Linked DNA regions of Homo sapiens: region 2 is linked to region 1. Evidence: fine-mapped expression QTL. A gene starts in region 1. The other region holds a variant in brackets. All regions are shown on one strand. Distances are from middle to middle. Region 1 holds the start of PAM16 (presequence translocase associated motor 16). Region 2 holds the start of GLIS2-AS1 (GLIS2 antisense RNA 1).

Region 1 (5,367 bases):
GGCCTTTGCTGTTCTGAGTTCCTCCACCTTGAACATCCTCCCTTCTACCCTGATCCTGTCAAAACCCAACATCCCTCAGGACCTAATATCATTCCCCATCCCCCGGGTGAAACCCTTTCCAGGCTCTCCCATGTATACCTTCCGACAGCACTTTCTTTTTTTTTTGGAGATGGAGTCTTGCTCTGTCGCCCAGGCCGGAGTGCAGTAGTGCGATCTCGGCTCACTGCAGCCTCTGCCTCCCGGGTTCAAGAAATTCTTCTGCCTCAGCCTCCTGAGTAGCTGGGACTACAGGCACACGCTGCCATGCCCGGCTAATTTTTTGTATTTTTAGTACAGAGAGGGTTTCACCGTGTTGCCCAGGCTGGTCTCGAACCCCTGAGCTCAGGTAATCCACCCAAAGTGCTGGGATTACAGGCGTGAGCCACCGTACCCGGCCTAGCACTTTCTTTTTTTTTTTTTTTTTTTGAGACGGAGTCTTGCTCTGTCACCCAGGCCGGAGTGCAGTAGCGCGACCTTCGGCTCACTGCAAGCTCGGCCTCCCGGGTTCAAGCCATTCTCCTGCCTCAGCCTCCTGAGTAGCTGGGACTACAGGTGCCTGCCACCACACCCGGCTAATTTTTTGTATTTTTAGTAGAGACGGGGTTTCACCATGTTAGCCAGGATGGTCTTGATCTCCTGACCTCGTGATCCACCCGCCTGAGACCCCCAAAGTGCTGGGATTACAGGTGTGAGCCACCGTGCCCGGCCAGCACTTTCTTTTCCTGTTAATATACTGTCATGCTGGGTGCGGTGGCTCACGCCTATAATCCCAGCACTTTGGGAGTCCGAGGCAGGAGGACTGCTTGGGCCCAGAAGTTTGAGACCAGCCTGGCAACATGGCGAAACTGCATCTCTACAAAAAATACAAAAAATTAGCTGGGCATAGTGGAGCATGCCTGTTGTCCCAACTACCCGGGAGGCTGAGGCTACTGGGGAGGATGAAATGGGAGGATCACCTAAGCCCCAGGAGGTTGAGGCTGCAGTGAGCTGTGATCGTACCACTGTACTCCAGCCTAGGAGACCCATCTGGGGCAACACAGCAAGACCCCACCTCTACATAAAATTTAAAAATTAGCCAGGTGTGCTGGCACTCACCTGTAGGCCCAACTACTTGGGGGTCTAAGGTAGGAGGATGGCTTGAGCCTAGGAGTTCAAGGCTGCAGTGAGCTAGGATCGCTCCACTGCATCCTAGCCGGGGCGACAGACAGACATCCTATCTCAAAAAACAAACCAAAAAAACCCCATGAGTTTTGGGACAGAGCTGGGCTCAAAAGAGGTCTCTGACACCATGGGATGCATGACTATGGTGGAGTCAAAACTGTCTGGGGCTCAGGTTCCTTATCTGTAAAATAAGGACAATGACAGCAGGACTTCATAAACACTAAATGAGAGACTCTACATAAAGCCTTAGCTCAGGGGCTGGCACTTGTACGCCGTTAGCTGTTACATTATCCTTATTACTATGTTAGTTAAGAAGTGGCTCCCCGAACCAGCTGCAACAGAGTCACTTGGGGAACTTACGTGTGCAGAACCTCCAGGGATAGAGCTCAAGAACCTGAACTTTTTTTTTCCCCCTCTTTTTCTTTTTGAGAGAGTTTTGCCCTGTCGCCCAGACTGGAGTGCAGTGGCACAATCTTGGTTCACTGCAGCCTCTGCCTCCTGGGTTCAAGCGATACTGGCGCCTCAACTTCCCAAGCAGCTGGGATTACAGGTGTGTGCCACCATGCCTGGCTAACATATGTATATATTATGTGTGTGTGTGTGTATATATATATATAAAATACATGATATATAAAAATATATATAACATAATAATATGTAGTATACATAAATGTATACGGTATATATAATACATATATATAATTTTTTTTTTGAGACGCAGTCTCACCCTGTCGCCCAGGCTAGAGTGCACTGGCGGATCTCGGCTCATTGCAACCTCTGTCTCGCGGGTTCAAGCGTCTGTCCTGCCTCAGCCTCCCGGGTAGCTTGGACTACAGGCGCGCACCACCCCACCCGGCTAATTTTTTAAATTTTTTGGTGGAGACCGGGTTTCATCATGTTGGCCAGGCTGGTCTCGAACTCCTGACCTCGTGATCCGCCGCCTCGGCCTCCCAGAGTGCTGGGATTACAGGCGTGAGCCACCGCGCCCAGCCAAACCTGCACTTTTAAAGCTACCCTAGGTGACCTGACAGTGTGGCGCAGGTCTGTTGACTGGCTCTACGTGCCAACGATATCACACAAACGCTCCGTGCTCGGTGTCTCGGGGCCTAGTTCAAGTCCCAGGTCAGCCACTTCCCTGGAAAGGCCAGCTTTCCACTGGGGATAACAACAGGGCAGCAACATCGACTCTGCAGCGCTGTAAGGTTCCAGGGCAGGGGAGGCGCTCACCAGCCAGACTCATGCTCCACCGCTGCCCACGGCTGCTCGCTCACACGCGGGCTAGGCACAGCGCGACCACGTTTGCCCGGCCTCTTCCAGGCAGACGGTTTTCCCTGGCCCTGAGGCCGCCGGTGCCGCCGCTGCCGGCCTCGATTCCCCCGGGTGCAACGCCCCCAGACCATGCTTCCCGCCGGGCACGCAGGGGGCGCACGGCGCCCGCCGCCCAGCCCGGAGCTCGCCGCCCGGCCCCCGGCCCCCGGCCCGACTCGGCTTCCCCTCCCCGGTAGCGCCCGACTCGGGGCTCACCATGGCAGCCGCTCTGCCTCCGGGGCTCAAACTCCGACTTCCTGGCCCCGCGGCCGGGGATCAAGCGTGGTCGGCGGGTCAGAGGTCAAGGAAAGCCGCAGAGAGCGCGTGCGCGATACGGCGCTGGGCATGCGCATTGCCTCAGTCTAAGGGCGGGCCACCGGGAGCGTCTTAGCGGCTCGGGGCGGGGTCGGAGGCGGGGTTTGACTGAGCCTGCGTCGGGCTCTGGATAACTGGGGGCGGGCTTGGGAGGGCAAGGGGCGTTACCGGGAGTCTCAATTGCCCGCGTGCTTACCCCAGTGCGCTGGAGCAGCTAAGCACATCGGTCAGACGTGGGGCGATTTCTGCCCTTGATTTTGCCAAAATATTTGGGAATGCAACATTATATGAAATCAATGAACATAATATGGAGTAGGATGCTAAATTCTCAAAAATACTTTAGAAAATAGAAAACTTCAAAATAGGTTTCATCCACATTCCTCCTGCCTGAGAAGCTCGTTCCCTTCTTCAAATCTTTGCTCAAATGTCACCTCAATGAGGCCCACCTGGACCCCTTAAAACGCCGTGACTTGCCCTCCATGAATGAAAAAAGTAACAGCTTTATTGAGATATAATCCATACACTGTAGATTTCATGATTTTCAAGTGCACAGTCCAATGCCTTTTATTCACAGAGCTGTGCCACTGTCACCACTATTAGTTCCAGAACGTTTTCATCACCCATTAGTCACTCCCCAGCCCCCTCCCCCAGCCCCTGTCAACCACTCATTTTTCTCTCTATGGATTCACAGGTTCCGGACATTTCATAGAAATGGAATCATACAAGCCAGGCGTGGTGGCTCATGCCTGCAATCTCAAAACTTTGGGAGGCCGAGGTGGATCGCTTGAGGTCAGGAACTCAAGGCCAGGCTGGGCAACATGGTGAAACCCCATCTCTACAAATACAAAAATTAGCCGGGTGTGGTGGCAGGTGCCTGTAATCCCAGCTACTTGGGAGGCTGAGTGGTGGATCTCTTGAGCCCGGGAGGTACAGGCTGCAGTGAGCTGTGATCACTGCACTCCAGCCTGGGTGACAGAGTCAGGCCCTGCCTCAAAAAAAAAAAAAAAAAAAAAAAAGGTAAAAATGAAAAATGAAAAAAAAGAAGAAATTGAATCATACAATGTGCAGCCTTTTGTGACTGGCTTATCCTCCCTTCTTGTCTCTATTTTTCTTCCAAGACTCTGATCACCCTCTACCATACCACATAATTTACTTATTTATTTTATTTATCATTTTGAGACAGGGTCTCACCCTGTCGCCCAGGCTGGAGTCCAGTGGCACAATCCTGCCTCACTGCAACCTCCACCTCCCAGGTTCAGGCGATGCTCATGCTTTAGCCTCCTGAGTAGCTGGGATTACAGGCATGGACCACCATGCCCCATTAATTTTTGAATTTTTAGTAGAGACAGGGTTTCACCATGTTGGCCAGGCTGGTCTTGAACTACTGGTCTCAAATGATCCACCCGCCACAGCCTCCCAAAGTGCTGGGATTATAGGCATGTGACACTGTGCCCAACCGGTTTTTTATTTTTAAATTATTTTTCCTTTTTTTTTTTTTTTTGAGATGAAGTCTTGCTCTGTCACCCAGGCTGGAGAGCAGTGGCCCAATCTTGGCTCACTGCGATCTCCACCTCCTGGGTTCAAGTGATCCTCCCACTTCAGCCTCCGAAAGTGCTGGGATTACAGGTGTAAGCCACCGTGCCCAGCCAAAAAAAAATTTTTTTTTTTCAAGATAGGGTCTCACTCTGTTGCCCAGGCTGCAGTACAGTAGCATGATCATGGCTCACTGCAGTCTTGACCTTCCAGCCTTGAGTGATACTTTCACCTCAGCTTTCTGAGTAGCTGGGACCACAGGCATGTGCCAACACATGTGGTTAATGTTTGTTTTTTGTCTTTTTGAGAGCGTCTCCCTGTTGCCCAGCCTGGAGTGCAGTGGCATGACCTCGGCTCACTGCAACCTCTGCTTCCTGGGTTCAAGAGATTCTCTTGCCTCAGCCTCCTGAGTAGCTGGGACTACAGGCATGGGCCACCATGTCCGGCTAATTTTTTGTATTTTTAGTAAAGACGGGGTTTCACCGTGTTAGCCAGGATGGTCTCGTGCTCCTGACCTCGTGATCCGCCTGCCTTGGCCTCCCGAAGTGCTCGGATTACAGGCGTGAGCCACCGCGCCCAGCTAATGTTTGTATTCTTTGTAGAGACAAGGGTTCCCCTATGTTGCCCAGTCTGACCTCAAACTCCTGGGTTCAAGCAATCCTCCCACCTTGGCCTCCCTTTATTTTTATGTTTATTGTTGAGAATCTGTTTCCTTCCACTAGAATGGGAGTTCCTTTTGGGCAAGCATTTCCTCTCTCTTCTCTGCTGTTAGATGTCAAGCGCCTGGAAGAGCATCTGGCGCACAGCATTCGGCAAATGGTGGGATGAAAGTTGGGCCACCTGGAATCCTACTCTACACCGCTGCCCTTCTTCCTCTTCCTCCTGGCCTCCACATTCCTCTCTCTGTGCCCACATTGTACTTCCTTGCCTCGGAAGTGGCTCTCTCCCTGGCTGGCTCCTCATCAGCCTTCAAGTCTTGGCTCTTAGCTGAAAGTCACCTTCTCAGGCCCT
Region 2 (5,367 bases), 24 kb before region 1:
GCCCTCCTGCCTGGGGCCCCCAGCAGGCCCTGCCCCTGCCCGCCAGCCCCTGCTGCTGGGCGGCCAAGGAGGGTGGAGCTCTTGGCCAGAGCAGGGAGCCGCAGCTGGTTCCCAGGAATCTGGGGCTGTGGGGCCGTTTGCTTTGGCAGCAGATCTGCCCTCGGCTCTCCAAGCCTCCTGGTGGGCCCCCCACCCCAGCCAGCCCCTCCAGCGCCCACCCACTGCCTGCTCTGCTATCCCTCCTAGCCCCACAAGTCCCTGGGCGGGGAGGGGGTACCAAGCCTGAGCCCCTGACATAGGAAGGGCCAATAGTGAACATGGCTTCTGGACTTACCTGGGGTTGAAACCCAGCTCTGCCACGGACAAGCTGTGGGACCTTGGATGGGTCACTTCACTCCCCTGAGCCTCAGTTTTTGCATCTGTAAAATGGGGATGAAACAGCACCTGCCTTCACAGTACCCGCACCTGGCTATGGGTACTGTCCTCATGCTGCTTGCCCGTGGCTTCTGGTTGTGGGTTTGCCACCTACTTGTGCAGCCTGGGCTGGATGCCTCCCCCTTCAGCCCTCAGTTTCCCCATCTGTAAGACCATACTGCTGAAGTGATGGTTCCAGTAATAGACTCAGGGACACCCACAGACCAGGGTTTCTCTGACTGGTTCAGGAGTGACCAGGGACTCACTTCCTCTTTCTGTTAAATTAGAAGATGACGGGCTGGGCGTGGTGGCTCCTGCCTGTAATCCTAGCACTTTGGGAGGCAGAGACAGGAGGATGGCTTGAGTCCAGGAGATCGAGACCAGCCTGGATGACACAGGGAGACCCCCCCATCTCTGCAAAATAAAAAATTTAAAAATGAGCTGGGTGTGGTGGTGGTGCACCTGTGGTCCTAGCTGCTCTGCAGGCTGAGGCAGGAGGATCTCTTGAGCCTCGGCGGCAGTTAGCCATGACCACGCCACTGCAGTCCAGCCTGGGAGACAGAGCAAGACTCTGTGTCTTAAAAAAAAAAAAAAAAAAAAAAAAAAAGGCCAGACTTGGTGGCTCACGCCTGTAATCCCAGCACTTTGGGAGGCCGAGGTGGGCGGATCACGAGGTCAGGATATCGAGACCATCCTGGCTAACACGGTGAAACCCTATCTCTACTAAAAAAATACACACAAAAAAATTAGCCGGGTGTGGTGGTGGGCGCCTGTAGTCCCAGCAACTCAGGAGGCTGAGGCAGGAGAATGCTGTGAACCTGGGAGGCGGAGCTTGCAGTGAGCTGAGATCGTGCCACTGCACTCCAGCCTGGGTGACAGAGTGAGACTCCATCTCAAAAAAGAAACAAACAAAAAAAACAAAGGTGACCACATAGACTTCTGAGAGATGCATCTTGAGGCCTTGTCTCCAAGTTCTCAGCTAAATGGCCACTGCTGACCAAAAGCGCACTCGCAGGACACTCCAAGGCAAGGGGTGTTCCTCACATTGCCCTTGACAACACTGCCACGCTGGTCACTCACCTGACCCCATGCTGCTGGGAGCGGGGCAGGGATGCAGCCCCATCTTACAGAGGACCCGCTTCCTTCTGCAAAGAGACCAAGTGGTTCTCAGGGTGGGTGCACACAGCCCCCCAGTGCACCCTGCACCTCCACAGGCTTAGGGCCTGCCAGCCACCCTCCCCCAAGCAGGAAAGGAGGAGCTTTTTTTGTTGTTTTTTGAGACAGGCCGGAGTGCAGTGGTGTGATCTCGGCTTACTGCAGCCTCAAACTCCCCAGGCTCAGGCGATCCTCCCACCTCAGCCTCCCGAGTAGCTGGGACCACAGGTCCCTGCTTCCACGCCCAGCTATTTTTTTTTTTTTTTTTTTTTCCGAGATGGAGTCTCACTCCGTCGCCCAGGCTGGAGTGCAGTGGCGCGATCTCAGCTCACTGCAACTTCTGCCTCCCTGGTTCAAGCGATTCTCCTGCCTCAGCCTCCCGGGTAGCTGGAATTACAGACACCTGCCACCACGCCCGGCTAATTTTCGTATTTTTAGTAGAGAGAGCGTTTCGCCATGTTGGCCAGGCTGGTCTGGAACTCCTGACCTCAGGTGGTCCGCCCTCGGCCTCCCAAAGTGCTGGGATTACAGGCATGAGCCACCGTGCCCGGCCACCGGCTGATTTTTTTACTTCAAACGGGATTTTTCCATGTTGCCCAGGCTGGTGTAGAACTCCTGCACTCAAGGGATTCTCCTGCCTCGGCCTCCCAATGTGCTGGGCTTACAGGCGTCAGCCACCGCGCCTGGCCTAGAAGGAGCTTTATTCAGAGCAGGACTCCAACCAGCTCCCTATTAGCCTAGTGATCTCAAGCCTCAGTTTCCCCATCTGTGAGATCGGGAAAATGACAGCAGCTACTGCCAGGCAGGGTTGTAGAGGGGTCATTGAATCCATGGACAGATGGGCCTGACACGTGGTCAGTACCTAATGGTCCTTTACCCCCTCTGGTGTATGACCCACCCCAGGCCAAGGGGCCCTGGAAGAGACTGTCTTTTCCGGGCCTTAGTTTCCCTGAGTGTGCTGGGTCGCCCCGTGCCTTCCAGTAGGGAGGGTGGGGACAGTGGCCGGCCCCGCCTGCCAGGGCGGGATCCTTGGCTACCTGGCCTGGCCGGGGACTGCGGGCGGGGGGCCGGGTGGCTCCGCCAGCGCTGCAGCTGGGGGCCGTCTGCTCGGGCTGCGGTCGGGCACACAATAGCAGCCATTGTCTCGGCCAGGGTGGCGGGGGGCCCGCCCAGCCCACCCTCCGGGTGACCCCCGCCCTGCGGTGGGTGGGAAGGGCAGGGCCCGGTCCCCCGAAGCCCCCGCCGTCCCGGTGGTCCCCGCGGCCGCCCCCGCGCGCTTCCTCCCTCGCCGCAGCCGCTTCCTCCCGCTCGCCCCGCTCTAATTAGTTCCTTTTGCAGCTGGAGGAGCCGCGCAGCGGCCGGTTCCGCGGCCACCCCCACCCCCCACCGACAACCCCAGCCCTCGCCCCAACCCCTGGGCCCTTGCGTGTGGGGGCGCTGCCCTGGGCGCATCCCAGGCTGAGTGCTCGAGAGACGCGGCCCTGGGCTCTGTGCACCCTCCACGCTGCGCTGTCCCACCGGGGGGAAACTGAGGAACGGAAGGCTCCACCAGGAGGCGCAGAGGGGCGTGGGGCCGGCGGGCCTTGCGCTGCGCCCGGGGAGCATCCACGGGGTGCCCCCACCTGACCGAGAGCCGGCTCCTGCCCTCGGGACCCCGCAGTAATTAGCACCC[A/G]GGCCTCTGGCTGAGCTTGTCCAGAGCCAGGCTGTCGGCCTTACGCTGGGGAGAGCCACGGCCACCCGCTCATGGGCACTCACTCAGGGTTCCCTGGTTGCAGGCCCGCTGCTCCCCGCTCTGGGCCTCCGAGGCTTTCAGGAGAGCAGGAACCTAGCTCTCGCCTGCCCCCTTCACCCAGCCGGGAACAAAAGCACAGAGCAGAGCCCAGAACTGGCTGCTGCCGGTCGGGGCGGGGGTGGAAGGGGAGGCTTTAAGCCTGGCCAAGGTCAGAACTGAAGCAGGGTCACTGACCGTCTCCCCTCTGGGGTGGGGCCTCCATTGGAGGAAAAACTCTGGGTGGGGAGGGCCTGGAACAGGGATGCTGGGAGGTGTAGGGCTGGGGGCAGCTCCTTCCTTTCCCGGGGGCAGGGACGCAGGCCGTGTGCCGGGCTCTGGCCTGCATTGGAATGAACCCCTGCCTCCCTGGCAGGACCCAGTGGCAGGAAGTGTGTGGGGGTGCCCCTGGGGACTGGACCTGCTGATGAAGGGGGTGCATTGGAGTCCTCCCTCTGGCTTTGGGCCGTGTGGCTGGCCCCACCTGGGGAGACAGGCTCCTCCTGGGGAAGTGTCCCCTGCAGGCCCTAAGAACAAGGTGACTCAGGGCCCCTGGCTCCCCGAGTCCCCATCTGTCCTGGGAAGGCAGTGGGGCAGGTGCCAAAGGATGTTGCTTGGGCAGCGCTGCCAGTGAGTGTCCCCGTCAGCTGGAATTCCCAGTTCCCAAACCATCCTGCCCTTGTGGTCCCCTTCTCCGGAAGGGTGGGGGTGGGGGTGAGGACAGAGGCTGTGGGGAGGCCTGTGGCCCCAGGCCAGCCAAGGGACCAGGCCACCAGCCCTTCCTGGCTCCTGAATTCTTCATCAGCATAAATATTTACTTCCTTCCTCCCCGTCCAGGCTTCCAGCACAGAGGAGCTTCGGGGAGGCTGGATTGCGCCTGTGTCTAAAAATAAACAGGTAGCAGGACGATAGACACACAGATAGACAGATGGAACTGGCAGGGGTTCAGGCAGAGGGCAACTCCCTGTCCAGCCAGAGAAACAGTGGAGGGGACCCTGGTCCATCCATCACTGTCACCCACCCACCTGCTAGCGGGGGTGTGGTCCCTACCCCACCGCATCTCTGGGAGCCCCTGGCCCATGCATGGCCTGGGAGGCAAATTCAAACAATCTGACAGCTCCAACAGGGGCGAATCGCAGACCTAGGTCCCACGGCCTAGTGCAGCTGCCCTGGCTCTGATGATGCAGCCTTGGGAGAGGTGGGCAGCCCCCCTGTGCTGAGACCCCCGTGTCAGCCATGTTGGGGTGGGGTCTGGGGATGTGTCCCTAGAAGCAGAGGATCTCCAGTGAAGGGGGGACCATTTTATGCCCTACTTGCTTGGAGAGTCAGGGCAGAAGGGGAGGACGTGGGAGCTGCCTTCCTGTCCTGCCCTGTGGACAGCATCTCTCCCCACTCACAGGCTATGCTAGCCCCCAGGGAAACACACGGGGGCATATCCAAAGTATTTCACCATGTAGTAGTTATGTCCACCATGGCCGCCCTTTGGTATTGAGTAAAGACCCCAATACCGCGAAAGACGGGATCTCACAGCGTGATTGTGCGGCAGTTAGATTTTCAAGTTGTAATAATCCCAATGAACAAACGCAAGGAAATGTCGTGTTTAACCGCGTAGGAAAAGATTGCTGCTCTGAATGTGAAGTTTGGGTTTAGAATGAAGTGTTGACCTTGTTCTTGGGTCGGTGGATACTGTTAGATCATTTGCATGTGAGGAAAATTACACCAGGTGGGGCGAGGTGGCTCACACCTGTAATCACAGCACTTTGGGAGGCCGAGGTGGGCAGATCACCTGAGGTCAGGAGTTTGAGACCAGCCTGGCCAACATGGTGAAACGCTGTCGCTACTAAAAATAGAAAAATTAGCTGGGTGTGATGGTGTACACCTGTAATCCCAGCTACTTGGGAGGCTGAGGCAGGACAATCGCTTGAACTCGGGAGGCAGAGGTTGCAGTGAGCCCAGATCACACCACTGCACTCCAGCCTGGGTGACTGAGAGACTCCATTTCCAAAAAGAAAATGAAAATTAAACCAGTG

Evidence for each region.
Region 2: its variant is fine-mapped to the expression of PAM16 in whole blood (TOPMed, PIP above 0.99).

Annotation. Positions count from the first base shown.
Region 1 is chr16:4,348,508-4,353,874 of GRCh38, forward strand. PAM16 (presequence translocase associated motor 16) reads right to left here and starts at 2,814. Exons shown (of 5, transcript NM_016069.11): 1 at 2,725-2,814. The coding sequence starts at 2,727. All of the region lies in intron 27 of CORO7-PAM16 (CORO7-PAM16 readthrough), which reads right to left.
Region 2 is chr16:4,324,936-4,330,302 of GRCh38, forward strand. The region is part of intron 1 of GLIS2 (GLIS family zinc finger 2); the gene reads left to right. GLIS2-AS1 (GLIS2 antisense RNA 1) reads right to left here and starts at 3,405. Exons shown (of 4, transcript NR_110901.1): 1 at 3,325-3,405; 2 at 1,495-1,559; 3 at 335-419. RefSeq lists enhancers at 1-599, 3,633-4,633. The variant A/G (reference allele first, on the strand shown) is at 3,242.